Homo sapiens: one gene and its partner. The protein of the gene in region 1 interacts with the protein of each later gene in a biochemical or structural test. Each region holds a gene or a part of one and is shown in the gene's direction. Other genes may lie near its edges.

What was found. The genes of interacting proteins can lie anywhere in the genome.
Region 2: the proteins of ACSL5 (region 1) and USP29 form a complex in vitro, tested with the Homo sapiens proteins (one study listed by BioGRID).

Annotation. Positions count from the first base shown.
Region 1 is NC_000010.11:112,425,587-112,429,541, forward strand, and holds the end of ACSL5 (long-chain-fatty-acid--CoA ligase 5), read left to right. Parts: exon of another isoform or gene 1-671; coding exon 672-773; exon of another isoform or gene 774-1,201; coding exon 1,202-1,273; exon of another isoform or gene 1,274-1,631; coding exon 1,632-1,772; 3' UTR 1,773-2,790; downstream 2,791-3,955. UniProt on the Homo sapiens protein: Catalyzes the conversion of long-chain fatty acids to their active form acyl-CoAs for both synthesis of cellular lipids, and degradation via beta-oxidation.
Region 2 is NC_000019.10:57,115,538-57,122,984, forward strand, and holds the start of USP29 (ubiquitin carboxyl-terminal hydrolase 29), read left to right. Parts: upstream 1-4,447; 5' UTR 4,448-4,692; intron 4,693-6,787; 5' UTR 6,788-6,937; intron 6,938-7,447.

The DNA of each region.
Region 1 (3,955 bases):
TATAAAACTAAAAAAAAAAAAAAAAATGAAGTTACATTCCAAACCTCAAATAAGGCAATTTCAATTTAAAAAATTTCAAAACTATGATGGACGTTGTACACAAGTCAGTAGAATTGTTTAGAATGGCTATACTAAAAGGTAATGATTCAGTAAAAAATGAGCTCCACATTGCACTTAGTTCCCATTCCTTAAGGAGTTCCTTAAAGCTATGTTTAAGAGCAGTATGTATAAAACAACAAACTGTTGCAATATATATAAAGCAACAAACAAAAGTTTGATCAACAAACTGTTGTTTTATACATACTATGCTTAAACGTAGCTTTAAGGAACTCCTTATCCCAAAACAACGAACTGTTTTATACACACTGTGCTTAAATGTAGCTTTTAGGGGACAAGGGGAGAGTTGACATGGACAAGCCAGAGGCGCTTTAAGCTTAATGTTGAAGGATCAGATTTGAATGGAACATCTTTGTAATGAGATATTGAGTGGGAAAATGGGATTACAGTTCCATGGTGTTGAAAATATATGGTGAGAAAAGAACACTAGTACTGGATTTAAGGTTTTGGGGAAATAACTATTACAATGACATAATTCTGCTTTATTTAACTACTGGGGGACATCCCTACATAACTTCTCTCATGCCCTTGCACCTTTTATTTCCTTTCCATAGTCATCCTTAGTAGGAGTGGTGGTTCCTGACACAGATGTACTTCCCTCATTTGCAGCCAAGCTTGGGGTGAAGGGCTCCTTTGAGGAACTGTGCCAAAACCAAGTAAGTCTTGCCTAGGAAAGCTTTATGCACACCCATGGGCCCATCGTGGAGGAGAGGATGCCTCACCAGTTCCTGCATCTGTCACAAGTGGCTGCAGCCCAAACAGACTGAATAGTTTTATGGGACTCGGGGATAGGATGGAGAGTTTAAAAAATAAAACTCTCTTTTCTATTTAAAATAATATGTTCATTGTGGGAAAAGATTGGGAAAGAAGAGTAAAAATGCTATTCAGAGAAAACTGTTAACACTTAGATGTGCCTTTTCTTCTCAGTTTTTCTTTCAATATTGGGCATATAATGTGCTTGTGCATAGTTTTATATTCCTGCTTTCATACTGCATGGCTTTGACAGGCACTTTGAGTTGGTTCATGCTTAGCCCTTCAGGCTTTTTGAAACAGCCATGCTTTAAGTGATGTTTTGTATTCTTAGGTTGTAAGGGAAGCCATTTTAGAAGACTTGCAGAAAATTGGGAAAGAAAGTGGCCTTAAAACTTTTGAACAGGTGTGTGCTACCACTGATGTTATACTGGCCTCTTGTCAGAAAGTTTTGTTTAAAGTTTCCATCTAATGAGGTTTAAATGTATAATTTCTAAGGAATTGATTTTAGATTTTGTGCCATTAACTACAAAATGACCTTTTGTAGTTACTTGTACAGCGCCCTTTTTTTGCTGTTTATTGTCCATTCTCCCTTCTCCCTACTCATTACTTTCTTAAATTATGTTTGTGGGAATGGGCATGTGTTACTGTTACCTTTACCCTTTCACTGCATCAACCTCACTTTCTTCACAGAGCACTCAGGGGGCTCTGCAGAGAAGTCCAAATCACTAATGAGCATGGATGTGTGTGTGTTCATCTTCCAGGTCAAAGCCATTTTTCTTCATCCAGAGCCATTTTCCATTGAAAATGGGCTCTTGACACCAACATTGAAAGCAAAGCGAGGAGAGCTTTCCAAATACTTTCGGACCCAAATTGACAGCCTGTATGAGCACATCCAGGATTAGGATAAGGTACTTAAGTACCTGCCGGCCCACTGTGCACTGCTTGTGAGAAAATGGATTAAAAACTATTCTTACATTTGTTTTGCCTTTCCTCCTATTTTTTTTTAACCTGTTAAACTCTAAAGCCATAGCTTTTGTTTTATATTGAGACATATAATGTGTAAACTTAGTTCCCAAATAAATCAATCCTGTCTTTCCCATCTTCGATGTTGCTAATATTAAGGCTTCAGGGCTACTTTTATCAACATGCCTGTCTTCAAGATCCCAGTTTATGTTCTGTGTCCTTCCTCATGATTTCCAACCTTAATACTATTAGTAACCACAAGTTCAAGGGTCAAAGGGACCCTCTGTGCCTTCTTCTTTGTTTTGTGATAAACATAACTTGCCAACAGTCTCTATGCTTATTTACATCTTCTACTGTTCAAACTAAGAGATTTTTAAATTCTGAAAAACTGCTTACAATTCATGTTTTCTAGCCACTCCACAAACCACTAAAATTTTAGTTTTAGCCTATCACTCATGTCAATCATATCTATGAGACAAATGTCTCCGATGCTCTTCTGCGTAAATTAAATTGTGTACTGAAGGGAAAAGTTTGATCATACCAAACATTTCCTAAACTCTCTAGTTAGATATCTGACTTGGGAGTATTAAAAATTGGGTCTATGACATATTGTCCAAAAGGAATGCTGTTCTTAAAGCATTATTTACAGTAGGAACTGGGGAGTAAATCTGTTCCCTACAGTTTGCTGCTGAGCTGGAAGCTGTGGGGGAAGGAGTTGACAGGTGGGCCCAGTGAACTTTTCCAGTAAATGAAGCAAGCACTGAATAAAAACCTCCTGAACTGGGAACAAAGATCTACAGGCAAGCAAGATGCCCACACAACAGGCTTATTTTCTGTGAAGGAACCAACTGATCTCCCCCACCCTTGGATTAGAGTTCCTGCTCTACCTTACCCACAGATAACACATGTTGTTTCTACTTGTAAATGTAAAGTCTTTAAAATAAACTATTACAGATACTTACGTTGTGGTGTTTCTTTCCTCATGGACCATGATGAAAATCAGTCTTAAACAAGGACCCCTTAAAAATCAAGTACAGTATCTGTTCTTAAACTTGGGTACACAATAGAATTATCTAGGAAGTTTAAAAAGACACTAATGCCCAGCACTTTGGGAGGCCGAGGCGGACGGATCATGAGGTCAGGAGACCGAGAACATCCTGGCTACTATGGTGAAACCCCATCTCTACTAAAAATACAAAAAACTAGCTGGGCGTGGTGGCGGGCACCTGTAGTCCCAGCTACTCAGAAGATTGAGGCAGGAGAATGGCATGAACCCGAGAGGCGGAGCTTGCAGCGAGCCGAGATCGCACCACTGCATTCCAGCCTGGGTGAAAGTGTGAGACTCTGTCTCAAAAAAAAAAAACAAAAACAAAACAAAAAAACCACTAATGCCTGGTTGCCACTCCAGGGATTCTGGCTTAAATGGCCGGATACAGCCTGGGCACTGAGATTGTTAAGAAGACCCACAGATGATTCTAGTCTGCGAACAGGTTAGTGAAGAAAAGTAAGTTCTGAAGACCAAACCTTCTTATCCCATAGCTGTAAAGAATAAAACAAATACCAGCTGAGCCAAAACTCCAACTGAGCACAAGTCATATCCATTCTTTTACCATCTTTGTTGTACTCTAATTATAATCTTGAATATTAATAGTATTCTTTTCTGGCCTCCAACTGGAGTTAAAGAGAATGTTCTTGGATGGTCTTTCTAGATTTTGAGCCCAGAAAAGCCAAAGAAATATCTATTCTTAAGGATCTGAAACAAAAGGGTAGGCAGGAATTAACTTTTAAAGTCTAGCTCCCATTATCACTTTAACTTTCTCGCCTTCACTTCCTTTCCTATTCTCCCCTCACGCATTACAGCTGAACCTCACTAGTTACCTTCCTGTTTCTCAAACGTGTCAGACACAGGTCCAGCCTGTTTTTGTTCTTGCTGCTGTCTCTAAAATGCAAATATCCCAAAGCACATGACTTGTCCCCTCATCTGCTTCAAATGCCAACTCAAGACTGTCCTACCTTCTTGCTTCACAATAACATGACTCCATCTTACATATATTTTACCTGTCTGTTCACTGCTGAATTCCCAAGTGCTCTTCCCTTATCCTCAACTATTACAGGCCTGGCC
Region 2 (7,447 bases), on another chromosome or scaffold:
GAGATAAATTGGCAGTCTTAAAAATGGGTTCACGGTCTTTCGTGCCTTTGGCTTTAGAAGACACGGTGGCCAGCCTACTGTTCTTTGGATCATCCCACTCATTTCTGTTGGGTAATTTCTCTAATTTTTCCTCCTCTGGCTTTCTTTTAGCCCCTTTATTTATCTAAGTTAAAATTTCAAATATTTTTCCAAATTACCAAAAATAATTCCATTAAGAATTTGATTGAGACTGGGCGCAGTGGCTCACACCTGTAATCCCAGCACTTTGGGAGACTGACGCAGGTGAATCACCTGAGGTCAGGAGTTTGAGACCAGCCTGGCCAACATCGTGAAACCCCATCTCTACTAAAAATACAAAAGTTAGATGGGTGTGGTGGTGCACACCTGTAATCCCAACTACTTGGGAGGCTGAGGCAGGAGAATTGCCTGAACCAGGGAGGCGGGGTTGCAGTGAGCCCAGATCCCACCAATGTACTCCAGCCTGGGTGACAGAGTGAGACTCTGTCTCACGAAAAAAAAAAAAAAAGAATTTGATTGAGTGAAAATACCTGGGCAGGAGAGACACTCCATTCTTTGTGCCTTTGATGCTCTATTGTACCTTTTTCTTTTCTTTTCAAGACATGGGGTCTCACTATGTTTCTCAGGCCGGACTTGAACTTCTGGGCTCAAGCCATCCTCCCACCTCAGACTTCTAAGTATCTGGGACTGCAGGTGCAAGCCACTGCACCCAACTCTTAATGTACCTTTTACACACATTTGTGTCACAACACCTGTGCCACACCCTTAACAGTTTTGCAGATGCACATCCCAACGTTTTTCAGTTTTGAGAAAAATCACTTTTATTTGGTAAAAATCACACATGCTTATGAAAATAATTACACATTGCACCAAAGTGACAAAGATGAAAGTAATCACTCCAGATCCTAGTTCCGAGAGGTTACTATCTTTAACAGTAGGCAAATAATAAAATCCCAGGTTTTTTGTTTTTTCTTTTGAGACGGAGTCTCGCTCTGTCACCCAGACTGGAGTGCAGTGGCACGATCTCGGCTCACTGCAAGCTCCGCCTCCCGGGTTCAGGCGATTCTCCTGCCTCAGCCTCCCCAGTAGCTGGGACTACAGGCGCCCGCCACCATGCCTGGGTAATTTTTTGTATTTTTAATAGAGACGGGGTTTCACCGTGTTAGCCAGGATGGTCTCAACCTCCTGACCTCATGATCCGCCCACCTCAGCCTCCAAAGTGCTGGGATTACAGGCGTGAGACACGGCGCCTGGCCAATCCCAGGTATTTTTTCTATGCAAATATACAGAAGGCTGGATGGATAAACAGATAATACATGTAAATACTTAAATTAGAATGTGGCCCAGGAGAACATGAACTCCATGAGGTCAGGGATTTTTGTTGGCTAGGTTCACTTCCACATCTCCTGTACCTAGAGTAAGGTTTCTCAGCCTGGGCACTACTGACATTTGGGCTGGATAACTCTTTTTGTAGGAGATTGGGGTGGGTGGGGAGCGTGCCATCCACTGCACTGTAGGATGCTGAGTAGTGTCCTTGGCCTCTACCCTGGCAGAAGCATCCATGTGACAACCAAAACTGTCTCCAGACATTGCCAATTGTCCCCTGGGGGCAAAACTGCCACCAAGTGAGAATCACTAACCTAGAAAAGTGAGTGTTCAATACACAATAAGTGCTTGTTAAATGTATTACACAACCGGAAAATGATGTAAGGGCAAGTTAAAAAGTAATGCAAACTGGCCGGGCACAGTGGCTCATGCCTGTAATTCCAACACTTTGGAGGCCGAGGTGGGCAGATCACCTTGAGGTTGGGAGTTCAAGGCCAGCCTGGCTAACATAGTGAAACCCCGTCTCTACTAAAAATACAAAAATTAGCCAGGCGTGGTGGTGGGCACCTGTAATCCCAGCTACTAGAGAGGCTGAGGCAGGAGAATCAATTGAACCCAGGAGGTGGAGGTTGCAGTGAGCCTAGATCCCCGCCATTGCAAGTCAGCCTGGGCAACAAGAGCAAAACTCCATCTCAAAAACAAACAAAAAAAAAAGTAATGCAAACTCATCTGGGTTTTGGTCATGTCCTGCATCTCCTGAGGAAGGGCAGAGGGCTGAGGAGCAGTCCTTGGGAAGCACAAACATGTGAGAATCCAGGTTGGCTCTATGCCCTACCCAGTAACGTAGCCCCAAATCTCTGCCTTAGCTGACATGGGGGCACACTGAAGTCTTGTGAAGGGTAGAAGGGACCATGTTGAGGCAGGGACAACCTTGCCTACAGGTGATTCAGGTAATCCCACAAGTTCAGCCACAGAAAACAAGCATGACCATGTGCAAAGACTTCCACGAGACCACTTGTCACAGGGTTGTTTTAATTCAAGCAACATCAACATACACCAGAAACTTGTGAAGAAAATTATGGCACATTTGTATAACTTCAGTGTCAAGAAGCCAGCGGTATTTTGCAGATAATGCAAGGTCTGTAGATCGAAAATTAAGTTGGGTGTCTTCCTTTAGTGTACAAACACCTTGGATGTTTGAGGAAATCCAAAGACAAGGTTCTAGGCATTTTATACGTGTTAACTCATGTATTATGTTAATTCTCACAATAATCCTTTGGAACTAGTACGATCACCATCCCTGCCTTATTGAGGAGGAAATGGGGTACAGAGAGCTTAAGCAACTTGCCAGTGTCATGCAGCAGGGAAGCGCTGGAGGCAGGGCTCCAACCCACGCAGCCTTGCTGCATGTTTGTGGAATGAACACAGGACTCAGGCACACAACCATCTGGCTGAGGCTCCATGAGCAGCCAGGAGCCTGGTCCCAATGCAGTCTCCTTATAGGCACAAATGGGGTGCCCCTTGAGACAGGAATAATAAAGGTGGTCACAGGAGAACGGAAAATTCCAGGCAACAGTTTCACATGACTAGCAAAGGAAACCGTTGAAATCGCTGCGTAAGCTAGGGGCGGATAAGACTCTGAAAACCAGGGTGTGGGCCAAGCTGGCTAAAGCCGACTGGACCCAACATGGTGCTGGATTCGACCCGTTTCACCTAGGACCTCTCATTATGTGCTCATTAACATACTAAGTCACACACCCACTGTGACAGCTCTGGGGAACACCCGTATTTAGTATAAAAATGTGTGGCACCGCAGTACCAAGAAATGTTTACCTTTTTCCAAGAATCTTCATGAATATTCCACCCCTTGGTTAAATAAATATTTAAAGGTAGCTCCAAACCCCGCTGGGCGTGATGCTCTGTGGTATGCCTGCACTTTTCTTTCTTCAGTACGTACTTATTCCCGTCGCAATGAATCTCCACACTTTGTTCTGCTCATCCATGAATTCCTTCTCACGACAGTGTCAAGAGCCTGGACACCAGTCAGGGTCGAGGCCTCACCAGCATCTTGGGGCCTCACTGGGCACAGACGCGTGAGCGCCCGGCCTGCAGACCTGACTCTGGCAGCCGCTCAGGCCCTCAGAGGGAGAGATGGAAGCTGGCAGGACGCAGTTGCTACCGCGCGGACCCGGCCCCCGACCAGCCTTGGCCCCTCGCGCGCCGGGACAGGGCCACAAATGACTGCACCTGGGCTTCGCTGGCCCAGGCACCACGCGACTCTAAGCGCGCCCAAAGCGACCCTCTGCGCAAACTACCCCCGGGGACGACGTCACCCGTGAGGTCCCGCGGCGCCTCCTCCTAAAGCTCGGCTGGGAAACCGTCCGCTTCCCCAAGACTTGGGGGCTTGTGGCCGAGTTGTTTTAGTTTTCCTGTAGGATTCACGGGTGGCTGAGGCAAACACGCTTGAAGGCCTAAGACTTTTAAGTCTCTTCCGCACCCTCTCTTCTGTCTCTTCCACCTGGAGGATGACCGCTTTTTTGGGGGTTTTGTTGTTGTTTTGAGACGGAGTCTCGCTCTGTCGCCCAGGCTGGATTGTAGTGGCGCCATCTCCGCTCACTGCAACCTCCGCCTCCCGGGTTCAAGCGATTCTCCTGCCTCAGCCTCCCGAGTAGCTGGGATTACAGGCGCCCACCACCATGCCCGGCTGATTTTTGTATTTTTAGTAGAGACGGGGTTTCGCCACGTTGGTCAGGCTAATATCAAACTCCTGACCTCAGGTGATCCGCCCTCCTCGGCCTCCCAAAGTGCTGGGATGACAGGCGTGAGCCACCGCGCCCGGCCGGGATGACTGTTATTAACAATTCCCGGCGTGGTTTCTAGCACCAGCCCACCTACCACACCCCACCTCGCTTGAGGCTGAATGGGTAACAGGATGAACCCGCCCCTGGGCTGGTTTTCTCTGAACCCTAACTCCTGCCGTTACGCCCCACCAGCTCTAGGCCAGGAACTCTATGTGCCCCGGCCACGCTAGAGCCCGTACCTAGACCCGTAGGTCGGGAGGCCTGCGCCCGGCACTGCGCAGACGCAGCGTGCTGTGCCCAGAACTCTTCTGTTCCCAGGAGAATCAGGGGAGTCGGCGCCGGAAGGGGCGGGTCCGAGCTGAGATTTCCAGAGCCATGGGAGCCGGAAGTCCAAGGAACTGTACCTCCATCATGACGACTCCGGTTACGTAAAAACATTCAAACAGAAAATGCTGGCCAGGCTCATGCCTGTAATCCCAGCACTTTGGGAGGCCGAGGCGGGAGGATCGCTTGTGCCCAGGAGTTGGAGACCAGCCTGGGCAACATAGTGAGACCCTCCCCCCACCCATCTCTACAAAAAATTTTAAAATTAGCTAGCTGAGATCATGCCACTGCACTCCAGCCTGGACAACAAAGTGAGACTATGTCTCAAAAAAATTTAAAAATTACCCACGCCTGTAGTGTCAGATAGTCAGGAGGCAGAGGTTGGAGGATGACTTGAGCCTTGGGGATCGAGGGTGTAGTGAGGTATGATCGCACCACTGCACTCCAGCCTGGGCAACAGAGCAAGACCCTGTCTCAAAAACTATATAAAAGAAAAAAGGGCTGGGTCGGTGGCTCACGCCTGTCATGCCAGCACTTTGGGAGGCCGAGGCGGGTAGATCACCTGAGGTCAGGAGTTTGAGACCAGCCTGACCAACAAGGTGAAACCCTGTCTCTACTAAAAATACAAAAATTAGCTGGCCATGATGGTGGGTGCCTGTAATCCCAGCTACTGGGGAGGCTGAGGCAGGAGAATCACTTGAACCCCAGAGGTGGAGGTTGCAGTGAGCCGAGATCACACCACTGCACTCCAGCCTGGGCGACAGAGCGAGAGACTCCGTCTCAAAAAAAAAAAAAAAAAAAAAAAAACAGAAAAAAGGCCGGGCACGGTGGCTCACTCCTGTAATTCCAGAACTTTGGGAGGCCAAGGCGGGCGGATCAGGAGTTCGAGACTGCCTGGGCAACATAGCGAAACCCCGTCTCTACTAAAAATACAAAAAATTAGCCAGGCGTGGTGGCGGGCTCCTGTAATCCCAGCTACTCAGGAGGCTTAGGCAGGAGAATCACTTGAACCCAGGAAGCAGAGGCTGCAGTGAGCCGAGATCACGCCATTAAACTCCAGCCTCGGTGACAGAGTGAGACTCCATCCCCGCTCCGCTCCCTCACCTCCCGCCAAAAAAAAAAAAGAAAATGCACTGCAATAGAAAAATAAAAGTACTACACTTTGGTCAAACAGGGTAACTACTAGAACGTAAAATGATCTTTTTGAAACTATCCACATTTGTTACACGTGTTGAAAATGTAGGATATATATGTTATATATATACTTATATATGTTATATATACTTATATATGTTATATACTTATATATGTTATGTACTTATATATTATATATACTTATATATGTTATATCTACTTATGTTATATACTTATATATGTTATATATACTTATATATGTTATACATACTTATATGTTATATATACTTATGTTATATACTTATATATGTTATATATACTTATACATGTTATACATACTTATATGTTATATATACTTATATATGTTATATATACTTATATATGCTATATATACTTATATATGCTATGTATACTTATATATGTTATATATATACTTATATGTATGTTATATATACTTATATATGTTATATATGCTTATATGTATGTTATATATGCTTATATGTTATATATACTTACATATGTTATATATACTTACATATGTTATATGTACTTACATATGTTATATATATACATATATGTTATATATATATAATTATATATATATAAAACAAAAAGCACGGTTACTACAAAGAAAACAGGTAAACATTAAGTGGAGTAAAAGTATATCCTGTTATATAAGGGACTTGAACATGTCTGGGCATGGTGGCTCAAGCCTGTAATCCCAGCACTTTGGGAGGCTGAGGCGGGTGGATTACTGGAGGTCAGGAGTTCGAGACCTGGGCAACATAGCAAGACCTTGTCTCTATTAAAAAATAGATAGATAGATAGATAGATAGATACATAGAACATCAAAAGAGGGAGAGAGAAAGCAGACAGATGTGGCAAAATATACACAATTGGTAAATTTGGGTGAAGGGAATATAAGTTATTTCTACTAATCTTGCAATTCTTATGTATATTTGCAATGATTTCTAAATAAAAGTTTTTAATTACCAATTGAAATAAAGTAAAATAAGTCACTATCTAGCCTTTTCTAGACAAATATTTTAAACTCTTACACAGAGATAAGTTAATCAAGAAACGTATTTCCTGGAAAAACCCGTGATATGGGTGGAGCCACCTGGGAATAAAAGGTCGGAACATCATAATCACTGTCAGACTCAACTTCCATCATTCTCCTCCAGGCGCTATGGAGTCTAATCCAGGCACTTTGGAAGGCTGAGGCTGGAGGATCGATTGAGGCCAGGAGTTTGGGACCACCCTGGGCAACATAGCAAGATCTCATTTCTGAAAAAAGAATTATCATCCACTCACCCAGAACAGCTCTCCAAACTGTAAGTTTCATTCAAGGTTTGCTTGTTTGGGTGATGGGATGTGTGTGTGTGTGTGTGTGTGTGTGTGTGTGTGTGTGTGTGTATGTGTGTGTGAGTGTTGGAAGGAGGGTCTGTCTAAACTTAATGCCCTAAAGATATTGTCAGATATTGTGATGAGGGGAATTTCATCTTCTACCCTTTATGAGGTTGAATTGTAAATTCGAAAATCCTGATTCTGGGTTTTTATTTTGAGGGGATAGTTTTCTGTTTTCTGTGGCATTGGATATTGGCATTTTCAGAAAAGAGCATGCATCCAAAATGAAAATGATGAAGCCTACCTGTCTTTTGAACTCAGCTCAGGGAAAAGCTGATGATCTCTAATTTTTGTGATTCCTCCTTTCATTAAATTTAAGGTCCAGTGAGGGTGAAGTTTCCCTAAAGAGGCAATAATTTATCAGCAGCAACAGGATGAAATGGAGGGGCTTTTCTTCACACTCTATATATTATGTTAGGATCTCTCAGGAAACTGAG